2 linked regions of the Homo sapiens genome follow. The protein of the gene in region 2 interacts with the protein of the main gene of each other region in a pairwise test. Each region holds a gene or a part of one and is shown on either strand. Other genes may lie near its edges.

Region 1 (3,748 bases), on a different chromosome or scaffold from region 2:
AACCTCATCTCTCTCTACTAAGAATATGGAAACCACCCATGGTGGCACACATCTGTAGTCCCAGCTACTCGGGAGGCTGAGACAGGAAAATTGCTTGAACCTGGGAGGCAGAGTTTGCAGTGAGCCGAGATCGCGCCACTGTACTCCAGCCTGTGTCGCCCACTGCACTCCAGCCTGGCGACACAGTGAGACTCTGTCTCAAAAACAATACAAAACACTGAATCTATATTTTATTTATTTTTATTAATTTATTATTATTATTATTATTTTGATTCTCCTGTCTCAGCCTCCCAAGTAGCTGAGATTACCTGTCACCACGCCTGGCTAATTTTTGTATTTTTAGTAGAGACAGGGTTTCACTATGTTGGCCAGGCTGGTCTTGAACTCCTGACCTCAAGTGATCCACCCGCCTTGGCCTCCCAAAGTGCTGAGATTACAGGTGTGAGCCACCACGCCCAGCCGACACTGCCCTAACTCTCAAGTTGCATCCTTACTCGAATAGTATGACAGTGTGGGAAGCAGCATGGGACAATGTAAAAAGGAGGCATGTTTCTGGCTTCTGCTACTTACTAGCTGTGTGTCTTTGCACGAGTTTCTTAACCTCTCTGGGCCTCAGTTTCCTTATCTGAAAAATAACAATGATAGTATTCCCTTCACAGGGCCAAATGGAATACTATCAGGAACACTACATAATGGAACTCAATAAATAATAGCTACTGCGGCCGGGCGCGGTGGCTCACATCTGTAATCCCAGCACTTTGGGAGGCCGAGGCGGGTGGATCACAAGGTCAAGAGATGGAGACCATCCTGGCCAACATGGTGAAACCGTATCTCTACTAAAGATACAAAAATTAGCTGGGCATGGTGGCGCATGCCTATAGTCCCAGCTACTCGAGAGGCTGAGGCAGGAGAATCACTTGAACCCCGGAGGCAGAGGTTTCAGTGAGCCAAGATTGCACCAGTGCACTGCAGCCTGGCGACAGAGTGAGACTCCGTCTCAAAAAAATACCTATCTATCTATCTGTCTATCTACTGTTATTCTTACCTGGTCATTTCCTTTTTGTTTCACAGGAAATTTGCGAGAATCCCCGATTTATCATTGATGGAGCCAACAGAACTGACATCTGTCAAGGAGAGCTAGGTAGGAAAGTGCCTCAGGTCAGATCCTGCCAGATGATCAAGGGGTGATTACAAGGTGTGATCCCCTTCCAGGAGGTAAAGGGACAATCTGTGCTTGCTTCCAGTAACTTTTTGGAAGATTTTTTATAACAGTTGCTTTATGGTCGTTTATCTACATGCTGGCGATTGCTTCATTTCCTCCTACATGCCTCTTTAGCACTCTGCCATGCATCACAGGGGGTATCTGCATCCTGTGGCCTCCTCTCCAGTATCTCAAGGACACTTACATACCCCACTCAGCATGACAAAAGCCCTGCTTTTCACTGTATCGTCTTTCTTGGAAGACAGCTCTGTGACTGTGCACCAAGCATGCCCCTTGGGCATGGAGATTCTAGATACACACACAAAAGGCATCGCCAAGGAAAGCACTTGTAACTGGAACCCTTGTTTAAATTGCCCCAGCATAGCTCCATCTTAAAAGAGTCTTTCCACAAAGATGGCATCCGCCATGTGGATGAGCATCCAATTTTCTCTTTGATTGGTTAGCTTGACTGCTCCATCTGATCTTCCTCTCTCTCGACCTCTTGTTCAGAAAGTATTGTCTTTGGTGTGGACTATAAGCAAGCTCTGTGAAGTAAAATTGGAGAGAACACCAACAGAAACAATTTAAATTTGAGGAAAAGGGGGCACCTAAGACCAAAGGAATTTGGCTTATTTCATTCCAGAAGGGGAGGCTGAGAATAAATCAGATGAATATCTGGGTTCCTGCACCTGAGGGAAGGCTTCCTGCAGAGCCCTGGGCATAATAATCTGGGACCTTCAAACCAATAACCTCTTTCCAAGGAAAGACTGGCTGCTTCCAAGGAGGGTAGGGGAGAGTGGCTGCAGGCAGCTCTCAGTCTCCCCTGCACACTCTCAGTTGCATTTCACTTAACCCATCCTCCTTAGAAGGCAGCTCTGTGACCAGGTACACCCCCTATTATATATATATATACACACACAGAGAGAGAGAGAGAGAGAGAGAGAGAGAAAGAGAGCAAAGTGTTACCTCCAACTACATACAGTACTCTGTCAGAAAAGAGGTTCAGAGAATAAGAAAACGTCCCGAGCTCATTCCGTTGCCAGCAATGTCTTACTGCCCCCTATAGACGGGTTCCAGGGCAGCTGCCTACCTGGCCTTCCTTCCAATACAAATCATCTTGGTGGATGGTTCTCTGAGGCTCAGTCTTCGCTGAAGTCAGAAGAGGAATTGGACTCACATTGCAAAGGCACAGGGCAGGGCAGATTTCCTACAGGTGTTAGGAAGAACAACCCAGTTATGATCACCTACTGCTCTGTCTCCATTGAGGCCTAAAAAGGAAGTGAGTTTATACTGCAGTTGGAGGAACTGCCTGCAGCCTTGAGGAAAATGTCTAGTCACAAGGGAGTAAGTTACCTGTTGATCATATTGTCAAGGAATTCCTGTCCAATTCTCCTTCCCTGGGTTGACACCTCTGTAAGGTCAGATCTGGAAGTAGGAGAGTGGGCACCAAGGGAGTCCCCGTTCAGGGAAGTGGAGTGGCTGGCTGGGATTGGGGCTTTTTCTTCCCAGGAGGAGCAGGAGTGCTCACGATCTGTGCCCTGTGTCTGCCTGCAGGGGACTGCTGGTTTCTCGCAGCCATTGCCTGCCTGACCCTGAACCAGCACCTTCTTTTCCGAGTCATACCCCATGATCAAAGTTTCATCGAAAACTACGCAGGGATCTTCCACTTCCAGGTGAGGTAATGAGAGTGTAGTTAAGAGGGCCAGCGGCAGGCCACCCACCGCTGGTCTCCTGGCCTTGACTTCCCAGAAGCTGGAGGAAACTTCCCACCCATCTACCCGCAGCGGCAACAGTCGGCATGGACCCCCTTAAGGCTTCAAGCCTGGGAGGAAGCAGTTGCTTATCTCTGGCTCCCTAATCCCTCCCCCACCACCTTCCACTATGTCCCAGAAAGACAGGAAGACATCCTGTTTACTGTGGGTCTATTTTTGTCTTTGCAGCTGTCTGGCTGCTTTTATTGCCTGCAGCCCTTCTCAAGTAGGTCCCTAAGATATTAGCACTGTGACACCACAGGACCCTTCAGGTTGTACAGGAACCCCTGTCCAGGGCTCCTGTATACTTCTTCCTCTCTAAGGCATGGCGGTACCAAGGCTATCACTCCTCTCTTCCAAGCCCTGGAAGAAGAGTCTGCTTAACCTGGGGATCAGGCTTCTTGTTTGCCCTAGAACTGAATCTGATGGTTCTAGAATCCATCCAGCTACTGGAAATTTTCTGGGTCCCAGTCACCTTGGCATAGAGCTGGTGCTAGAGCAGAACCAAACTGAATTCTACCTGTGAGGGTCTCGTAGCTTCCGGGATGCTGGGGAGTCAGCCTGTCTCCAGCTTCAAAGGCTCCCTCATGTCCCAGGATGACCCACATTATCAGTTCTTGCTCCCCGGGTCTTGCACCTCAGCACGGAAGGCCTCAGAAAAGGTCTGTCTCCAGGCTCAGACTCCCCCTCCTGCCGCCTTGGGAACATGGCATATTTAAAGGGTCTCAGATCTAAAGGGCCTTACATACAAATATCAGATAGATTTCTGTTCTCATTTCAATGAGGGAGAAAGTGC
Region 2 (3,748 bases):
AGGAGAAAAATAATCTTTAAAAAAGTATTTCAAAAGATTTTTCAACCAGCTTTCCAAAGATGTGTTATGGGTTTTTCCTTTACATGAAGAACACTTTTTTTTTTCAATCTCTATAGACACCATGCTTAATATGGTTTTTAATCACACGAAAATCACTTCAGTGGCACATCAATCCCATATTTTAAAATAACCATTTGAGCTTTTTTCTGGGGAAAGTATTTGCCACCTTTACACCAACCTGGATGCATGCTAGTTATATATCATTTCTTTTCCAATGCATTTTCAAGTTGGTTTATCACATTATTAGCAAGCTCATCAAAGTACAATAAAACAACACTGATCAGAATGAGAAAAGGGGGAAGTTCATGAATTCCATAATGTTGGGTATTTTAGATTTTAAGAAGCCCAAATATATTTCCATAACTACTTAAAGATCAAATTGCCCACATTTGAAAAAATATGTCTTAAAACAACAGGCCAGTCTACACAGTAGGTAATTTCTGAGTTATCCAATTCTCTATATTAACTCCACTAGGATGAATCCAGTGGCTGGGAGAATAATTTTTTGAAAATTCTGCATCCGTTCCTGTTAGTTTCAAAAGGTATCAAGCGCCCCAGCTACGCGTTTGGGATTTCACGAAGTATTCAAAGGAAAATAACTCAGAGAGGCGGGAAGAACGCACTTAAAAGTGACGAGCTTCCTAACCTCCTCCAGTTCCGAAGTTTCCCCGTGAGCTCATCGCTACTGCCCACTGAATGCTTCGTTTTGCAAACAGAAACGAAGTAGGAAAAAAATAAGTTCCAGCCTAGATCTGCCAAACAGGGGTCCCCCATCTAAAGTGGGCGGGCAAGAGAATTGCCAAAACACATCGGCTACAGTCACTTTCAAGTTTCTTGCAAAAAAGCGAAGACCAACATCCCAGAGAGTGACTCATCTGGGGGCTTTGTAAGCGGACTTTGTTTGCTCTCTCCACTTGGTTGGAGGAAACGTTCGAGGTGGGCGAGAAAGAAAAGCGCTTCGGGAGAAGGTCGGGCCTCCAGGAGTCCCGGCCCCCACCGCTCCCCGCCTGCCCCGGGCCGGCCCGGCTGGGGGATTCCCCAGGCTGAATGGGACGGCGGGAGAGCTGGACAGAGGGAGAAGGTGTCAGCTGCCAAGGCTCGGCTGAGACTTGGGAAAAAAAAATGTAAATCCAGTGAAAAAGTTTGGGGAGGGGATACACACTCACAACATCCGCCCCCCCAACTGGGTAAACACGAGAGGGGTGGTGGCGGTGAGGGGGAGTGGCGGGGAACCTGGGGATACCCGCTATTCGCGGGGACACGGGAGGGGGTCAGAAAGTCAACACACGCACGCACACACACAAAAAGACGAGGAAGGTGAAAAGAGAACAAGCGAAAGATGGATGAAGTGGCGGGGAGGAGACTCAGGGCAGGACCTGGGGACCTCCTCACCCCACCGTGGGGGACCGGGCCGGCACGCAATGGCCCAGCAGCCCGCGCTATCCAGCGGCCCGGCGCCCTCCTTTCTCTGGGCCGCGGGGTGGTGACAGCGACCGGCCTCCTCCCTTCCCCTTCAGAGCGAGAGGGAAGGGTGTGTGTGAGTGTGTGTGTGTGCGTGTGTGTGCTGGGGGGCCCCCGGGTTCACCCCGCGGCCTGCTATCTCCCCCGCACCCCGTGAGGCCGCCTCCTTTCACCTCAGCAGCCCCGCTTCGCCGGGGCGGGCGGGCGGAAAAACAAAGGGGGATTAAGGCCGGGCCGGAGAGCGGAGCCGGGAGGGAGGGGAGGAGGAGCGCCCGCCCGCCCGCCAGCCCGGGGCCCGGCCCCCCTGTCCCCCCCGTGCCCCCCCGGGGGGGCCCCCAGTACCTGGAACAGGAACGCGGTCCAGTTGGCCTCCATGGCTGCGGCGGCCGACCCCCCTCCTCCCCACTCCCCCCGCTCGGGGAGCCTCCTCAGCCGGAGGAGGCGACAACAAAGCGGCGGCGGCGGCGGCGGCAACGGCAGCGGCGGCTCCTCAACATGGCAGCGCCGAGCGCGGCCACTTCCGGTAACCTCCGGGACGCACCACCGCGGCGGCGAGCGCGGGCGGGGGGGGAGCCCCGGCCCGGCCGCCGCCGCCCCCAGTCGCCCGGACCCCCTCTGGGCGTCCCCGCTGCCGGCTCGCCGCCTCGGAGCTCAGCCAGTGCCCGCTGGCGGTGGGGTCAGGGCCCCCGCGGGGGGGCTGGGGTGGGGCCCGGGGCGGGGATGGGGCGCGGCGTCCCCCCCCGCGGGGGTGTGTGGTGCTGCGGTCCGTGGCTCAGGCAGCTGGAGCAGGGGGAGCTCAGGAGAGAAGATGGAGGACGCCAGGGTCTGGCGCTGGCCCGCTGGGCACAGCTGGGCCGTCTCCCGTGACTCAGACACGGTGTCCAGCACCGTCGCGTCCCTGTTAGACCCTCAGCGGAGGGCACAGGCCACGGCGGACACTCGGCTCTTCAGTCGCTCATGCACAGCATGGTCCCCACCTCCAAACTGGGGGAAGCCCTTTCGACTTCGAGCCTCTCTTCCTTTTGGCATTTCCTCCCCGGCCGGCTAAGCCCTCTGCGCTCTCGCTATGATATGCATCTCATGGCGAGATGGCCTTCCAACTCAAGCAGGGAATCCCACTGGGGTGCAGCCTCAGATCCTCTCAGTGTGGAGGGAAACACTTCCCACGCGTAGAGATGTCATTACTGGGTTATTCTTGGGTGAAGGGCTGAGCCTCCCCATCCTCCCCTTCACTCCAAGATAGGATGTGAAATTCTATCCCAACACCCCTCCTCTCCCGCCAAAAATAAAAACAAGTGAGATAGTATAGACAAATTATTTTAGTCCTTTAGTACAGTCTGTTTCCTCCTTCACCCCCAGAACAAAAATCGAACTTCTGGTTGGACAGCGTCAGATGTCACTGAGGTGACCCCAGCCTGTTTGCAGTTCCAAGTCTTCCGTGTAGGCGTCACTGCTACTGGAACTTTGTAGATGAGGAGCCTGTATGATGATGTCCTGAACATTTCTATCCTTTCCTCACACAGAGGGAAGCTACTGGGAATATCAGAGACAAGCTATTATTAAACAAGTGTCTCTAGTCCAAGACATCTCCTGTGGCAGGGAAATGAGGGGGCAGGCTGTATCAGTGATATTTTTATAAACTCTGGTTTTAGAAAAAATTCTTCAGATGGACGCATTATTTTAAGACTTTAACATTTTCCAAAACCAACTGAATCTTATCCCCTCCATTTATCCCCCTCCAGACACTTCTAATCAAGGTCACCATCTCCAACTTCCCCCATAGACAATAAAAATATGGCTGGAGAATTCTACTGTAATAGAAAACCAAGGAGATATAGTAATTTGACAGTGTGTTTCCTTTCCATCCACTAGACAAGAATACCCCCTCCCATTCTTTCCTCCCCTCAGTCACCAGAATGAAGGGGCTGGAAAACGTTGGTCTGGTTCCTTTTAGAGCTGATTCCCCATTGGATACTGCCTGGAGGCCTTGGGGATGAATGAGAAGTTCTGCAGTTTGGATCAGTAGCAGAAGCAGGTAACACATCAGGGAACCGGTCAGCCTAAGATAGGAGGGGACAGAAAATGATGAAAGAGTTTCTGATACATTTATCAGCTAAATTGCTATGGTCACCCCCATGTCTCCTGTAATGTCCAAACCTAAGGAATTAACTAAGTAAACTAAAACCTTTGTGTTCTTGCTCTGACCTTGGACAATGGAATTCTTCTT

The links.
Region 1: the proteins of VEZF1 (region 2) and CAPN3 interact in binary tests that used the Homo sapiens proteins (3 or more experiments, as listed by UniProt).

The regions. Positions count from the first base shown.
Region 1 is NC_000015.10:42,383,412-42,387,159, forward strand, and holds part of CAPN3 (calpain-3), read left to right. Parts: intron 1-1,071; coding exon 1,072-1,141; exon of another isoform or gene 1,142-1,746; intron 1,747-2,291; exon of another isoform or gene 2,292-2,408; intron 2,409-2,554; exon of another isoform or gene 2,555-2,620; intron 2,621-2,755; coding exon 2,756-2,874; intron 2,875-3,748. UniProt on the Homo sapiens protein: Calcium-regulated non-lysosomal thiol-protease. Proteolytically cleaves CTBP1 at 'His-409'. Mediates, with UTP25, the proteasome-independent degradation of p53/TP53.
Region 2 is NC_000017.11:57,986,216-57,989,963, forward strand, and holds the start of VEZF1 (vascular endothelial zinc finger 1), read right to left. Parts: upstream 2,040-3,748; 5' UTR 1,897-2,039; coding exon 1,864-1,896; intron 1,736-1,863; exon of another isoform or gene 1-1,735. UniProt on the Homo sapiens protein: Possible transcription factor. Specifically binds to the CT/GC-rich region of the interleukin-3 promoter and mediates tax transactivation of IL-3.